Regions from separate parts of the Homo sapiens genome. Here region 1 is linked to region 2. Evidence: fine-mapped QTL for protein levels in blood plasma. A gene starts in region 2. The other region holds a variant in brackets. All regions are shown on one strand. Distances are between the middles of the regions.

Region 1 (8,323 bases), 30 kb after region 2:
TTTATGTAATCAAATGTGTTGTCATTTGCTTTTTGGTTTCTGGAATTTGTGTCATACTCAGAAAGATCTTCCTTACTTTCCAAAAAAATTCTTACCACAGTATTTTTTTTTTTTTTTTTTTTGAGATGGAATCTCACCCTGTTGCCCAGGCCAGAGTGCAATGGTGTGATCTCGGCTCACTGCAACCTCTGCCTGCCAGGTTCAAGTGATTCTCCTGCCTCAGCCTCCCAAGTAGCCAGCATTACAGGTGTGCACCACCATACCTGGCTAATTTTGTCTTTTTAGTAGAGACAGGGTTTCACCATGTTGGTCAGGCTGGTCTCAAACTCCTGACCTCAAGTGATCCCACCTCAGCCTCCCAAAGTGCTGGGATTACAGGCGTGAGCCACTGCACCCAGCCAACACAGTATATTGTTATATATATAATTTTTTTTAGAAACAGGATCTTGCATGCAGTGGCTTCTCACAGGCATGATCTTAGTGCACTAGACCCTTGAATTCCTGGGCTCAAGCAATCCTCTTGCCTTGGCCTCCTGAGTAGTTGGGACTGCAGGTGTGCAACACCATGCCTGGCTATTCTAATATTTTATATCTAATTTTTACATATAAATCTTTGATTCAGATTCAGGTCCTTTTTTCCCCACGTCTCAACACTATTAATAGATTTGAGATTCTAAATTAAATTAATTAAATTCTTTTTTTTTTTTTTGAGACAGAGTCTTGCTGTGTTGCCCAGGCTGAAGTGCAGTAGTGCAGTAGTTGGCTCACTGCAACCTACGCCATCTGGGTTCAAATGATTTTCCTGCCTCAGCTTCTTGAGTAGCCGGGACTATAGGCATGTGCCACCATGCCCAGCTAATTTTTGTATTTTTAGTAGAGATGGGGTTTCACTATGTTGGCCAGGCTGGTCTCGAACGCCTGACCTCAGGTGATCTGCCTGCCTCGACCTCCCAGTGTTAGGATTATAGGTGTGAGCCACCGTGCCTGGCCACTTAATTAAATTCCTATACATAAATGGGACTATTTCTCAACTTCTTACTTGTTGATTTGCTTATTTATGTACCATTTTAATATCTGATAGAGCTAATTCCCACTTGTTGATACAGGAATTTCTTAAGCTGGGGTCTGTGTATATGAGTTTGTGGGAGATGAGGGAAGTCTGTGAATCCAATGAAATACACATTTATAATTGTGGTTGCAATGTGATCCTTTCTGGGGAAGAATCCGTAATTTCATTAGATTCTCAAAAGGATGCATGACTCAATAAATGTTGAACCACAGATCTAGAAGAATAATAGAGGCTTATATCCTTAAGGCAGTCCCTCATGAGTGTTAATCTTTTTAAATCAAATTTTGTTATGAAGTGTGGATATAAGTAATTGCTTGTGCATACGTAGAATAATATCTGGAAAACGCATGAGAAATTGATAACATTGGTTGTCAGAAGATGGGAACTGGTGGTGGTTGAGGAACAAAGGTGGGAGGGAGACTTCGTTACTTTCTTATATTGTTGGAATTTGGAACCTTATGATTGTATTACCTTTTCCAAAAAGTGCATAATATTTTAAAAATTAAGGTGACCAACTGGATAACTCTTCAATAGTGTCTCTAGAATGATCTCTGTGGAAAAGGAACAATTCTTGGTTATTTCTTACTGGCTTTTTTTTTTTTTGAAATGGAGTCTCACTCTGTCGCCCAGGCTGAAGTGCAGTGACACTCTGCAACCTTCGGCTCACTGCAACCTTTGCCTCCTCGGTTCAAGCGATTCTCCTGCCTCAGCCTCCTGAGTAGCTGGGACTACAGTCGCATGCTGCCACGCCTGGCTAGTTTTTTTTTTTTTTTTTTAGACGGAGTCTCGCCTATCTGCCAGGCTGGAGTGCAGTGGTGCAATCTCGGCTCACTGCAACCTCCGCTTCCTGGGTTCAAGCAATTCTTCTGCCTCAGTCTCCCCAGTAACTGGGACTACAGGCGCATACCACCACACCCTGCTAATTTTTGTATTTTTAGTAGAGATGGGGTTTCACCATATTGGCCAGGCTGGTCTCAAACTCCTGACCTTGTGATCCACCCACCTTGGCCTCCCAAAGTGCTGGGACTACAGGCGTGAGCCACCGTGCCCAGCCCTAGTTTTTGTATTTTTAGTGGAGATGGGGTTTCACCATGTTGGCCAGGCTGGCTCAAATTCCAGACCTGTAGTGACTTGTCCACCTCAGCCTCCCAGAGTGTTAGGATTACAGGCATGAGCCACCGCACCTGGCCTCTCTTCCTAGCTTTTTTATATTACTAGACTTAATGCCAGAGTTCTTTGCCAGGTCACCTTCCAAACCACTGCCAATTACATTACTTCTGAATCTCATTTCTTTGCAGAAGTAAAAAATAAACTTGCAAGATGGTTGTATGGATTAAATGAGATAATATATGTAAAACATTTGGCACAAGTGTTAGTTCCTTTTCTCAACATAATTTTTTCTCTTTATAGGGAGTCTGAAGATACAGTATTGCTCGTCCTCAAAGAGATCTACCAAACCCAGGGTATCTTCCTTGATCAGCCTTTACAGTAAAAATGACCCATCTATGGCTGCTTAATGTAAGTTTTAAAATGTCATATATATAGTGTAATTCTTACATATTAACATGTTATAATGAACTATGGAGCCTCAAGCTCTTTTTAAATATACTAGCTGTTGCCTGTCACCAAGATCTAGGCTGCTATTCATTTTTAGAGGGACTGGTAGAAATTCATGGGGAAAAAAACACAGTAGCCCATTTAGAGGAAGATTAGTGTATGTCTGTTTTGCTAGAGATTTTGTCCAATGACACCTGTCATTTTTTAGGATCTAAACTCAGAGTTTTAATGGTTCTGTTATCTAAGAGTTACTGTGGCAACAGTTATGATTTTAATTACCAACCACCCATCCTGAGATTTAAATTACTCAGCCTTTTAGATGTGAAATTACAAAGTCTGTGTATTCGACTCTGGCATTCTCTGTGGTTGCCTTCCAGTTGTGACTGCAGCTCTTCTCCCACTTTCTTCCCTAGACGGACATTGAGGGATCCTTCCCCAGAAAATCCACCTGTTTGTTGCTGCAATTTTCCTCTCCTCAGCTGCGTCATTTCCTGCATGTTGCCTGCCACTTACTCACCACTGGGGTCTTTGGAAGATAATCTTCCTCTTTGGAAATGAATGGAAAAGCAAAAGGCCCTATTACTTTTAACCACTGGCTTCATATAAACACTTGCCATTTTTTTCTGCATAGCTGGGGGTGGTTTGTGTCTTTAATTCTTTGATGATAGTTTATAGTTGCCACACTTTATTGATTAGTACTTGACAGGGTGTAAAGCCTATTTTGGGTTTGATTTGTTTTGGGTGGGGTAGACATGTTTTTAAGGAACTTATTGCTTATCTTTAGAAAATGTTCTAGTTTGGAAACAGATTCTTGAGATTCAGAAGGCATTTTGGAGTACACTTATCT[CTTGT/C]TTGTGTTGAACTGAAGGCTAAGTCTCAGTGGACATGGAAAAGACTTTTGGGTGATTTATTTTTGAACCTGCATTTCTTTCTTATGTGTAGTGTATGAAGAAAGACTAGAATGTAGCTTTAAAAAAGTGTTGTTTACTCTCTTAGAACTGACAGACTTATTGCCAGAAATCACTGATGTTCATTGTTTTTGCAACTGTTTGAGCTGCTGTAAGAGTCTAAAGTTGACAAGTTAGTTCATGTTAGGTGCATCTTTATAAAGCAAAGATGTTGTATATCCTAGGCCTCCCTTTTATATTTGATAGAAGTTATTTGCTAATAGCTTCTATTCTTACGTTGAAAATAGTTGTAAAAGCTGATGAACCTGAAATTGTGTAGCCTCTACAGGCTGCTGAGGTTCTAAATAAAACCTTTTAGTGGTGCCTTTATGGTGAAACAGAATTTGTCACCTGCCATTTCTACTTGAGCTAAGGTAGTATTGTGTATCCTCTTTCCTTCTTAGGTATCCATAATCCACAAAGCATATTTAAAAGGCTCTTGGCACGGGCAGCATTGGTTGAGCAGGTAGGTTTGGCTAGGGGGAAATGTTTAACTTGTTCTGAAAGAAAAACTTATGTCTGTAGGGTCCAAGAAACAGCTATTCCAGAGTCAGTGTCAGCTGAGTCTGGAACATATGAAGTGAGGTTTACTTCTAAGAACACAAGTGACTGCACACTAATTTTGTCAAGGCATCTTTTCACTACTTTGCTGTAGATTTTTCTTCTTCATTGGTCAGTTTGTCATTGTCTTTGTAGTTCTCTTTATGATAATCCTTTATACTTGCTCTCAGATTCCACAGGCCTCTGTTTATAGAGTGGCAAAGGCAGGCGAGCTGTGGTTTATTGTTTATAAATTTTTTTATAAATGTTATGGTATTCAAAGCCACTGACATTTAATATTTACTGAAGCCATTCCTTAGACAGCAGTGGTCTTTATCCCTTTCTGGAAAGAAAAGGAAAATGAAGGGTAATTACTGTCACCATGGAGATTGTAGAGGTAAGGTTGGGGTATAGGTCAGGCCTGGCCTTTCTTTGTCATCTGCTTATAGTCTAGTGCTAAGTATGCCACTAAGTTTCAGATATATGGAATACTTTATTTTTTTAAAGGTATATAAACTCTGAGTTATTGAGAATTAAGTATTCACTGTATATTAAGGGGAAGCTTTTGCCAAGTTGTGGTCTTCAAATTTATGTTTACTCTTCCTATTGGCAGAATAGGTGCTATTTAAGAGTAAACCAAAGGATAAGCAGAGGGAGTCCCTATAACCAAAGATGGACAGCATAGCCCTGGATAGCCAGATAAACCACTCTTTGTATTAAGAAATGTTTCTTTCCTAGTGGTGAGGGGTGGGTAACTGTGAAAGAGCTTTATATCTTGTCTATTCATGGTATTATAGCTGTATATTCCCAGGATGATAAGCTTGATTGAAATCCTGTATTTAGTCATATATTATTTGCGCTGCTTCATTTGTATCATGTGCAATCTCTAGACCAACCCTATTTTTAAACTCTGGTACAGCATCATTTTGTACATATTCCCAGCTGCAGAACTAGTATCACTTATCTCAGCAAAAGAGATTGTTTGCATGGAAAGATTAATAGCACTGATTAGATTTCTAATATTTTGCATTTTTGAAATGTTTGTTTTCTACGTGATTATATTTAAAACTTTAGTAAATACTAACATGAAACCATATTGACTAGTGGCCTACTTTTACCTGGACTCACCCGTCTCAAAGTCAAGAAAATCAGTACAGTCACGATTTTCTCTGTCTTTATGTATTACTAAAACAAAAAAATAGGTTTTGGGCAAAGAACTAATATGTAAGTTCTTTCCTGTTGACTGGTATTTTAATTGTCATAGGCAGAATTTAAGTTCAGAATTTAAAGCATGGCAATTATAAGAGACTTTCCTTTGGTATTTATAAATATTAGCCAGTACTATAGATAACAGCAGTTGAATCACTTAGGGCGGATGGGGAATTCAATGTTTTGCTTTACTAAAGTTCCAGCCCCTTAATGTACTTTAAATATTTAAAAAAGCACACATTTACCATTTTATTTGAATATCAGGTTTACTGAAGGAAAAAGATACATTGAAAATATAGGAACATACACATAAAAGACAATGTCATATTTAAAGTATAATCACAATAAAGAGAAAGGGAGCTGTAGGTCCTATGGCATCCATTCTGATGACATCCCATAATTGTTCCTTATATTCCATTGTGAAGAAGGGGCAGAAAAAGATTCATCTGTCCTTCAGATGACGATACCTGTCATTTTTCTTTTCTACCTTAGTCACTTGGCAGTGTTGGTGCATTTGAGCAGATCTTCAGTCATGAATGGAAGGAAAGAAGCTCACAAGTACAGTTATGGTCAAATGAGGTAGAAACAGTCATCTGTTAGTAGTGCTGAAACCACACTCCTGACCATTTTCTTCTTTATTATTGTTTTCACTTAGTAATTCAACAAATTGTTTATGCCCACGGTGTTCAAAATGCACAGCAGTACCAGATGGCTGGACTCAGATAAGATGCACACAAAAGTGATAAATTACCCTAGATTCGACATTTTCCTATTTAAGGCTTGATGGAATTGTCATCAGAGAAGGTAAACAGAATCAAAGTAATTTAGTTGGCCATGCCCTAGATTTTAAGATTTTGAGCTATATGAAATGGAAATTAAGTTTTGATAATGAACTCTAGCTTCTGAGACAAGGTGGGGCTATGTAAAGGCTTCTTTGTGACAAGATCCTTCTAAGAATGGCATTTAAATTAAATGTAAAAACACTGTAGATCTTCAGATATTAATCTGATAGACCAGATTCATAAGGTGTTGGACACCTTTGAAAGATCCTTTTACTAGAACATGTGGCATACAGTAGTGGAAAAGAACCGTAACTCCTCAAGATAGATGAGCAGGGGCAAAAGTGTGTAATCATTTGGAGGCAGAATACAGTGTGGCTTATGTCCTCACTTGCACCTTGGAAGGGGAAAAAAAGGCTAGAATTTCTTGTCTTGTGCATGGTCCGGTTAGGAGGGCTAGTTCACCTGTTCTCTATTGAGATAGATTCAATTTTTTTTTTTTTTGAGATGGGGTCTCACTCTGTTGCCTAGGCTGGAGTGCAGTGGTGCGATCTCGGCTCACTGGAACCTCCAGCTCCCAGGTTCAAGCAATTCTCCTACCTCAGCCTCCCAGGTAGCTGGGATTACGGCACACAACTCCTGGCTAATTTTTGTATTTTTAGTAGAGACAGGGTTCACCATGTTGGCCAGGCTGGTCCTGACCTCAGGTGATCCACCCTCCTCAGCCTCCCAAAGTGTTGGGATTACAGGCATGAGCCACCACGCCCGGCCAGATTCAATTTTTAAATATCAAAACAATAAGAATCCCCAGGCTTCTGTGCAGTGGAAAGTACAAGTTTGTCTTGAAATGGTTTATGGCATTCTGCATCAGTCAGAGGAGGATAATACTGCCGATAGCAGACATAGGCAAATGTCATTCCAATCATGGATCCAACTAGTACATCTGAAGAGAGTGGAAACAAGGTCTTCTCTTAATATTAGGCTCCTAAATCCTATTACATACACATAGCATAGAGGACCTGGCCCTCCAGGATACTCTACTGTGGGGCTAAAATAACCTCAATTCCAGACTTATGATTTCTAAATAAAATCTTTTTATTCTCAATTTTATCATAGTTACAGTATTATCATTGTCAGGTTGCTTTCTGAACACCAAATCAAAACACATCTTAAGTAAGTATAATAAGCTTTGTTCAGAGTGTACTAAATTAGAATTTTTCTAACTCAGAAGAGTAACAAAGGTCCACTTATTGCTATTCATCTGCCCATTTTCACCATTTAAAGGGTCCTAGAGGAAGGAATAAAGTATTTTAAGAGTTGCTTCTCGCCGGGCACGGTGACTCACGCCTGTAATCCCAGCACTTTGGGAGGACCAGGCAGATGGATCCCGAGGTCAGGAGATTGAGACCAGCCTGACCAACAAGTGAAACCCTGTCTCTACTAAAAATACAAAAATTAGCCGGGCGTGGTGGCATGTGCCTGTAATCCCAGATACTCAGGAGGCTGAGGCAGGAGACTTGCTTGAACCCAGGAGGTGGAGGTTGCAGTGAGCCGAGATGGTGCCACTGCACTCCAGCCTGGGCGCAGAGCTAGACTCTGTCTCAAAAAAAAAAAAAAAAAAAAGAGTTGCTTCTCTTTGCAAAAAACTAGTTTATTTAAAAATTTAAAATAGGGTTCCTGAGGACCTGTGGGCAATACCTCCAGCGTTTTTTTTGGAATTGTGTCAGGTTCAAGCCATTCTCCTGCCTCAGCCTCCCAAGTAGCTGGGATTAAAGGCGTGTGCCACCATGCCCAGCTGATTTTGTATTTTTAGTAGAGATAGCGTTTCACTGTTGGTCAGGCTGGTCTTCAACTCCTGACCTCAGGTGATCCACCTACCTCACCTTCCCAAAGTGCTGTGATTACAGGCATGAGCCACTGCACCTGGCCTCAATTTTTGTATTTTTAGTAGAGACGGGGTTTCAATATGTTGGCCAGGCTGGTCTCGAATTCCTGACTACAGGTGATCCGCCTGCCTCAGCCTCCCAAAGTGCTGAGGTGTGAGCCACCGCGCCAAGCCAGGTGTTCTGTAATTTGGATATTTTACTTACTATAGCATTCAGCTTAAATTTGTTTGGTTTAATTATAATTTTATGTTTTCTTGAATTTTACTTATGTTTTTGAACAAAAGTCCTATGACAATGAACCTGATTTTTAAGAGAGTAAATTGAACTTTGAGGTTT
Region 2 (8,337 bases):
CACTTTACTGGGACACAGCCACACTCATCAGTTTACATCTCCTCTCTGGTTGCTTTAGTGCTGCAACAGGAGAAGTGATTAGTTGTGACAGAGCCTTATGGCCTACAGAACCTAAAGAATTTATCTGGCCCTTTACAGAAAAAAAGTTCGCTGCCTCTTGCACTAGAACATTGAAAGGGAAAAAGTAGAGATTGTTTTACATTTTACCTGTTAAGGCTTGTCTGGTAAAAGGCTGATATACAACCACAAACAACAGCCAGTAACATTAAGTGTGTTTTTATTATTTATTATTTAAGACAGAGTCTCGCTCTGTCGCCCAGGCTGCAGTGCAGTGGCAAGATCTCAGCCACTGCAAGCTCCGCCTCCCGGGTTCACACCATTCTCCTGCCTCAGCCTCTTGAGTAGCTGGGACTACAGGAGCCCACCACCAAGCCTGGCTAATTTTTTGTATTTTTAGCAGAAACAGGGTTTCACCGTGTTAGCCAGGATGGTCTCGATCTCCTGACTTCGTGATCCACCCGCCTCAGCCTCCCAAAGTTTTTACAGGCATGAGCCACCGCGCCCGGCCATGGGTTTTTATTTTTAAGGGGCACAGTAAGATATTCTATTTGTCTGAAACTACCTATGTATGCAGACTTTTGGGGAACCTAAAATTTATACTGTGTGGATCCCAAATACTTGCATCCAGATCATGTGTGGTAACTATTTAAAATGCAGATTCCTGCTGGGCACTTTAGGAGGCCGAAGTGGGAGGATCACTTGAGCCTAGAGTTCAAGACCAGACTGGGCAATGTAGTGAGACCCTGTCTCTAAGAAAAATTTAAAAATTAACCAGATATAGTGATTACGGCTCACTGCAACCTCCCCTTCCTGGGCTCAAGCCATTCTCCCGCCTCAGCCATCTGAGTAGTTGGGACTATAGGTCTGTGCCACCATGCTCAGCTAATTTTTTTTTTTTTTTTTAGAGGTGGGTTTCGTCATGTTGCTCAGGATGGTCTCAAACTTCTGGACTCATGCAATCCGCCAGCCTCAGCCTCCCAAAGTGCTTGATTACAGCATGAGTCACTGTGGCCCATAAAACCATTTTGTTGCATACCAAAAGTAAGATGGTGGTGTCTTGAAGAAAAAGAACTTGAGTGACTATTTGAATTGGAAGCTGAACTAGATGCTCTTTTTTCATGCAACATCATTTTTATTTGAAAGTATAAGGGACAAACTATGGCTATTTGTATGTAAGTATTTAGCAGAAATTTATTTGAAAACAAAGGAGACTTGTCACTTCAAGGAAGACAATTTATCATTTGTTGCCAATGATAAAATTTGACCTTTTAAGAAAAAAGCAGAATATTGGAAAACTTGTACCTGCTACTCTGAGCTTGACAGCTTCCCAATATTAAAGACTTTTCTGATGAGATCGGTAATTTTTAAAAAATTGTATAATAAAATATATTAACATTTGGAAGATCTACATAGCTCAGTGAACTGATACTTTCCCAAATGAACAATACATGTCTTAAGTCACACATGGGTAAGAGATCCATTCAAAGTGCAAGATAGGCTGCTTTGCCTATGGAGTAGCCATTCTTTTATTCCTTTACTTTCTTAATAAACTTGCTTTCACTTTACTCAAAACAACAAAAATAAAACAAAGTGCAAGACAGAAAAATGGATTTTAATAGTATCAGAATATGTGAAGTTTACTGATATATTTTCAAACTGCACATTGCAATCCACTTTTTTTTTGAGACAGCCCTCCAAATTTGAGAACAGCTGGTATGGAGGCTACAACAGGATTTGAAGATAGAAAACCTAAATTCAAGTTCCAGTTCTGTCACTTACCTGACTGATTTTAGACAAGTTACTTAGGTGCAGGCTCTGAAGTCACACTGTGTGGGTTCGTGATTTTAGCTCCACCCCTTGCTAAATCGGCCTGCCTGGGCCTCCCAAAGTGCTGAGATTAACAGGCGTGAGCCGCTGTGCCCGGCCTTGCAGAAGCTATTCTAAGTGTAATAAATTTGAAGGGAAGGTGTTAACTTGGGGATATTTGTGTGTGGCTGTTAATTTGCAAAGAGAATAAATGTGTTATAAAAAATTGTTTTCTTTTTCTGTTTGTGAAGAAATAACAAAACTGAAATAGGCCGGGCAAGGTGGCTCACGCCTGTAATCCCAGCACTTTGGGAGGCCGAGGCGGGTGGATCACGAGGTCAAGAGATCGAGACCATCCTGGCCAACATGGTGAAACCCCGTCTCTAGTAAAAATACAAAAATTAGCTGGGCGCGGTGGCGCATGCCTATAATCCCAGCTATTCCGGAGGCTGAGGCAGGAGAATCGCTTGAATCTGGGAGGCGGAGGTTGCAGTGAGCCGAGATCGTGCTACTGCACTCCAGCCGGGTGACATAGTGAGACTCCGTCTCAAAAACAAAAAACAAAAAACAAAAACACAAAAACTGAAAAAAAATGCCCTATAATCTAGTTAGAATATAGGAAAATATCTTTTTAAATACCAAAAGGTATTAAAATGAAATACTAAGGAGAGTCGGGCAGGGCCTGTACTCGACCTCATGACTGCGGGAAATTTCTCTTTTTTTCTTTTTTTGAGATGGAGTCTCCCTCTGTTGCCCAGGCTGGAGTGCAGTGGCTGCGATCTTGGCTCACTGCAACCTCCGCCTCCCGGGTTCAAGTGATCCTCCCACCTCAGCCTCCCAAGCAGCTGGAATTACAGGCGCGAGCCACCACCCCCGGCTAATTTTTATATTTTTAGTAGAGATGCCGTTTCACCATGTTGGCCAGGCTGGTCTTGAACTCCTGGCCTCCCAAAGTGTTGGGATTACAAGCGTGAGCCACTGCGTCCAGCCCCTTTCAACTTTTCACCTCAGTTATGTCTTCCTGTTTGGACAGCAGTATCTCATCTCCAACCTCCCTGGCATCTTTTAAATCCTGTTAAGGTTGCCTCTACAAAACAAAACAAAAAAAAATTATTAATTTTATTGTTTGTTTAGAGACTAGTGTCGCAGTGTTACCCAGGCTGGAGTGCACTGGCGCCATCTGGGCTCATGCAGCTGGCACCAATGGGCTGGGGCGCTCCTTCAGCCTCAGCCTCCTGAGTAGCTCAGACCCAGGCGCTGACACCACGCCCGACACCTCTACATTTTTTAGGGATACCTTTTTGGTAACCTCTAAATCATAATAAATGCACGGAGGACGGGCCAAAGCCTTTTTGCCTGGCAAATGCTAGTGACACCCGTTCTCAGCACCCAGAAGCAGAGGCCAGGAGCGGGGCGGCTGTGGCTGCGCCCTCCGCCCTACTCCGCTAATCCCGGGGCCGCGCAGTCCCTGCGTCCGGTGATCACCGCGCTGCTCCTGGCGCACTAGTAGGGTCTGTAGCGTATCCCGAGGATCATTCCGACTTTCCCGCCCCGTACGTGAGGGGCCGCCTTGAAGCCTCTTCCGCCACGGACACTCGAAACTGATCTTGAAGCCCCTGCCGTCACGGATACTAGAAACTGATCTCGAAGCCCCTTCCGCCACGGACACTCGAAACTCTCCCCCACTGTTAGACCTCAGCAGCCAGCAGCCCGCCGCCCGGCGCTGCAGCTCCCTGCCCGCAGGAGCCACGTCTCGCGCGACTCCCCCCACCTCTCGCGACACTTGCCGCCCGTGCCCTGCGGCCCTGCACGCCCCACCCGCGGTCGCGCGCCGCGCTCCCCGCCGCCTCACCTTTTCGCCTGGCATCCGGGCCCGCTACTCGCCCACTGGGAGCGCCGTGGCGCCTGGTGTTCGGCGCGAGCCCGGCGGGGCTGCAGGTTCCGCCCTGCTCCGCCGCGCCCCGCCCGGGCTGGGGTAAAGGCCGCGGCCGGGCCATGCAGTGTCCTCCTCAGGGAGGGCAGGAGAGCCTGAGGAGTGGCGGGGCCGCCAGGTGAGACCGCGTCGGGCGGGCGGCTGGACCGAGGGAGGCCAGGCTGGGTGCAGGTGGGCGGCGCAGCGCTGCGGGGCCGGGATGCGGGGCGGGGGAACCTCGGCTCCCGGGAAGCCCCGAGCCTGGGGGAACCCTGGGCACCCTGTGAACCCTGTGGTCTGCACTGGCTGCCCTGCTGCTGTCGCGGGGCTGCGGGCGGACGACCTGAGCCCGAGCTCCGAGGGCCCGGAGCGGGGCGCCAGGGCCTAGGGTCGCGGGGGCCAGGGGCGCGCCAGGGTGGCTGAGGTAAGTCTGTGTGGGGAAAAGGACAATGGAGCCGAAAGCCGGCGTCTGCCGTCCCGCCGGGCCCGCGCGAGATGCCCTCCTGCCCCCCGCCCTACGAGGCAGCTTAGAAGTGTCCTTCTGGTGCCTGCGGCGCTGATCGTTGCCGAGTGGAAGGAGTGTTGGAGAGGTAGAAACAGCTGGTCAGAGCCGCCTCTGCGGGAGGAGGCTTTTGAGGTCGCTTGTTAGCTTTCATCTGAGATTCTGGCTATGGGAGTGGGCGTGCGTGTGCGCACCGTGGCCCCAGGCGAGGTTTCGTCTTTTCCCAATTTGTACCACCACCCATTAAGCGACTTCAAGGATCCATCAAAAATGATTGGTTCCTAAGCGAACAGTTTTATTTTTTGTATTTTAAGATTCCATTAGTTGTGTAATGGTAGGGGCCTGGAGCCCAAAACCTTGGCGTTACTAGGACAGGGCATGACCCAGCTGACTTGGAGTAAATTTTCTGCCTTTAACTACATTTAGATTGGAAATTAGGGTAAAATGTTTTTGTTGCAATCTAGTTTCGAGCATGTGGTCCTGTGATTCTGGGTTTGTTTTATAACTTATGGACTGAGTAAAATTACCCAGTTTACTGAGAGAATTGAGAACTCTGTGCAATGGTTGATCTAATAGAAGCATTTTATTTAAAGCTTCCACCCATCCAGTTGCTAATTTATGTTATTTCTCTTTTAAATTATGTAGATTTTGTTGTTGTTGTTGTTGCAGAAATGGCTCCGTAAAATGATTAGTTTTGTGCGTGTGTGTGTGCGAACAGTTACACAGTTAAGTTCGTTTTCCTGATAGTTTTCTTTTGTCTTTAGAGAGCGAAATGTCATCAGTGCAGTCACAACAGGAGCAGTTGTCCCAGTCAGATCCATCTCCGTCACCAAACTCATGTAGTTCCTTTGAGCTAATAGACATGGATGCTGGCAGCTTGTATGAACCAGTTTCTCCCCATTGGTTTTATTGTAAGATAATAGATTCTAAGGAGACATGGATTCCTTTCAACTCTGAGGATTCACAGCAGCTGGAAGAGGCATATAGCTCTGGTAGGTGAAAATTATGACTTGGAATAGACAAAGACTCTCCCCTCTTCAAACTATAATATAATGGTCCTTATAGTGAGTGCTATGAAAACCAAATTTTAGATTTTTCCAGTTACATAATTTCTTACAGCATTTTATATAGAACTTCTGCACTAATACCTAGCCAATCAATAATATTCAAGAATTTGGTCTGTATTTTGAAAACAGTATCTATTATTATTTCTGCATAGTTACCCAATAATTTTTTTTTCCTTAGAGTTGGGGGCCTAATTATATTGTCTAGGCTGGTCTTGAACTCCTAGGTTCAAGCAATCTTTCTGACTGGGCCTCCCAAAGTGCTGGGATTACAGGCGTGTTACACCCTGTGCCCAGCCCCCCAGTAATATCTTTAATGTTCTAGCTTATGTTTTACTTTGTTTTATAAAGAATGTGTAAGGCTGGGCACAGTGGCTCACACCTGTAATCCCAGCACTTTGGGAGGCCAAGGCGAGCAGATCACTTGAGGTCAGAGTTTGAGATTAGCCTGGCCAGCAATGGTGAAACCCCTTCTCTACTAAAAATACAAAAATTAGCTGGGCGGCGGGGTTTGTGCCTGTAGTCTCAGCTACCTGGGAGGCTGAGGCAGGAGAATTGCTCAAACCCGGGAGGCGGAGGTTACAGTGAGCCAAGATTGTGCCACTGGACTCCAGCCTGGGTGATAGAGTGAGACTTGTCTCAAAAAAAAAAAAAGAAAAGAAAAGAAAAAAGTATGTATAGAGTGGGGTGCAGAAGAATGAACTCTCTAACTTGTCACTTGTCTTTTCTTCTTTTATAAAACAAGAATGATTCTATTTATACTGAATCATCATGATGGTTATTAATTTACCTTATGGTTCCTCAAGCAAATTCAGAAAAATCACATTATATAATTTTTTTAAGGGGCACTGCTATCTTTCCCCAGAAAAAGAACAAAACTGGGTAGTATTTTTTTCATATTTCATTAAAATCAGGAATGGTTTTGACGGTTTGTAAAGTAGGTAGTGAAAAAGATATGAATTAAATTCCATTTTGTTTGGTGTTTAGTCAAGTAGGAACTTTTCATTCATGTGTTTCATAACATTATTTAGAGTATAACTGAGAATTGTATGTTGGGAGATTTATTTTGAAATATGTACTTCTTTTCCCCTTTTCAATCCTTGAAAGGAAAAGGTTGTAATGGGAGAGTTGTTCCTACTGATGGGGGCAGATATGATGTTCATTTGGGGGAGAGGATGCGGTATGCTGTATACTGGGATGAACTGGCATCGGAAGTGAGACGATGTACGTGGTTTTACAAGGGGGACAAAGACAATAAGTATGTTCCCTACTCGGAGAGCTTCAGCCAAGTTTTAGAGGTATTCTTTTGACTCTTTTTTTACTTATTCTTTCTTTCTCTTATTTAATAATCTTTTCTTTCCTTTGTAATTTATTTTGTGAAATTTCCAGAAAGACTTTGGTTCTGTCTGCATCACATTATAAAACATAATAAAGCATTTCTATTTACAAGCAAGTTTCAGGATAAAGTAGTCTTATTTTCAGATTTTTTTTTTTTTTTTGAGACGGAGTCTCGCTCTGTTGCCCAGGCTGGAGTGCAGTGGTGCGATCTTGGCTCACTGCAACCTCCACCTCCCCGGTTCAAGTGATTCTCATGCCTCAGCCTCCCAAGTAGCTGGGATTACAGGTGGCCGCCACCACACCTGGCTAATTTTTTTTAAGGGGCACTGCTATCTTTCCTCAGAAAAAGAACAAAACTGTTTGGGTAGTATTTTTTTTCATGTTTCATTAAAATCAGGAATGGTTTGACGGTTTGTAAAGTAGGTAGTGAAAAAGATATGAATTAGATTCCATTTTGTTTGGTGTTTAGCCAAGTAGGAACTGTTCATTCATGTGTTTCATAACATTATTTAGAATATAACTCAGAATTGTATGTTGGGAGATTTATTTTGAAATATGTACTTCTTTTCCCCTTTTCAATCCTTGAAAGGAAAATATTGTAATGGGAGAGTTGTTCCTACTGATTTTTATTAGAGATGGGGTTTCACCATGTTGGCTAGGCTTGTCTCGAACTCCTGACCTCAAATGATCTGCTGGCCTCGGCCTCCCAAAGTGCTGGGATTACAGGTGTGAGCTACTGTGCTTGGCCTTTTTCAGATTTTAAAATACGATGGAAATGGTTGTGGTGTTTTAAGGTGTAAAAAAAGAAAAAAATACTCCGGGCCTGGTGGCTCACGCCTGTAATCCCAGCAGTTTGGGGGGCTGAGGTGGGCGGATCACCTGAGGTTGGGAGTTTGAGACCAGCCTGACCAACATGGAGAAACCTCGTCTCTACTAAAAATACAAAATTAGCTGGGCACGGTGGTGCACGCCTGTAATCCCAGCTACTTGGGAGGCTGAGGCAAGAGAATTGCTTGAACCCGGGAGGTGGAGGTTGTGGTGAGTGGAGATCGCACCATTGAACTACAGCCTGGGCAACGAGCAAAACTCCATCTCAAAAAAAAAAAAAAAAACTGGTGGGCACAGTGGCTCTCACCTGTAATCCCAGCACATTGTGAGGCCAAGGCAGGAGGATGACTTGAGCCCAGGAATTTGAGAACAGCCTGGGCAACAAAGCAAGACCCCACCACTACAAAAAAAAGTACACGCGCACACACACACACACACACACACACACAAATACAAATGCAAACTGTATTATGCTATGGTCACAGGATTGATCTTTTTTAGCTTTTATTTTTCTTGCTCTGAAAACTGAAATTTTTCTTTAAATTGGAGTAGAGCGTTAGTATTTTTTGTTGTTGTTGAAACAAGAGTGTCGTTCTGTTTCCCAGGCTGGAGTGCAGTGGCACGATCTTGGCTCATTGCAAGCTCTGCCTCCTGGGTTCTTGCCATTCTCCTGTCTCAGCCTCCCAAGTAGCTGGGACTACAGGCGCCCGCCACCACGCCCAGCTAATTTTTTGTATTTTTAGTAGAGACGGGGTTTCACCGTGTTAGCCAGGATGGTCTCAAGCTCCTGACCTCGTGATCCGCCCGCCTCGGCCTCCCAAAGTGCT

Alleles and levels. Alleles are on the strand shown, and positions count from the first base shown. The strength of an association depends on the size of the effect and on how common the allele is.
As copies of C replace CTTGT in region 1, the plasma level of the protein whose gene starts at base 3,643 in region 2 goes up (weak association).

What was found. A credible set is the group of variants that fine-mapping cannot tell apart. PIP is the posterior inclusion probability: the model's chance that the variant is causal. Protein levels are from antibody-based Olink assays in UK Biobank. Linkage for the fine-mapping came from a reference panel and not from the study's own genotypes, which makes the PIPs less certain.
Region 1: its variant is the best candidate, but not a certain one, in a credible set for the plasma level of the DDHD2 protein (UK Biobank, PIP 0.74).

The regions. Positions count from the first base shown.
Region 1 is chr8:38,257,561-38,265,883 of GRCh38, forward strand. It overlaps DDHD2 (DDHD domain containing 2), which reads left to right. Exons shown (of 18, transcript NM_015214.3): 17 at 2,480-2,587; 18 at 3,040-5,276. The coding sequence ends at 2,561. PLPP5 (phospholipid phosphatase 5) reads right to left here. Exons shown (of 7, transcript NM_001102559.2): 7 at 5,570-7,044. The coding sequence ends at 6,884. Among named protein-coding and RNA genes, the nearest start is that of PLPP5, 7.5 kb to the right of the region's middle. The variant CTTGT/C (reference allele first, on the strand shown) is at 3,474.
Region 2 is chr8:38,227,943-38,236,279 of GRCh38, forward strand. It overlaps DDHD2 (DDHD domain containing 2), which reads left to right and starts at 3,643. Exons shown (of 18, transcript NM_015214.3): 1 at 3,643-3,917; 2 at 5,045-5,272; 3 at 6,452-6,642. The coding sequence starts at 5,053. RefSeq lists silencers at 2,996-3,045, 3,616-4,285 and an enhancer at 3,945-4,444.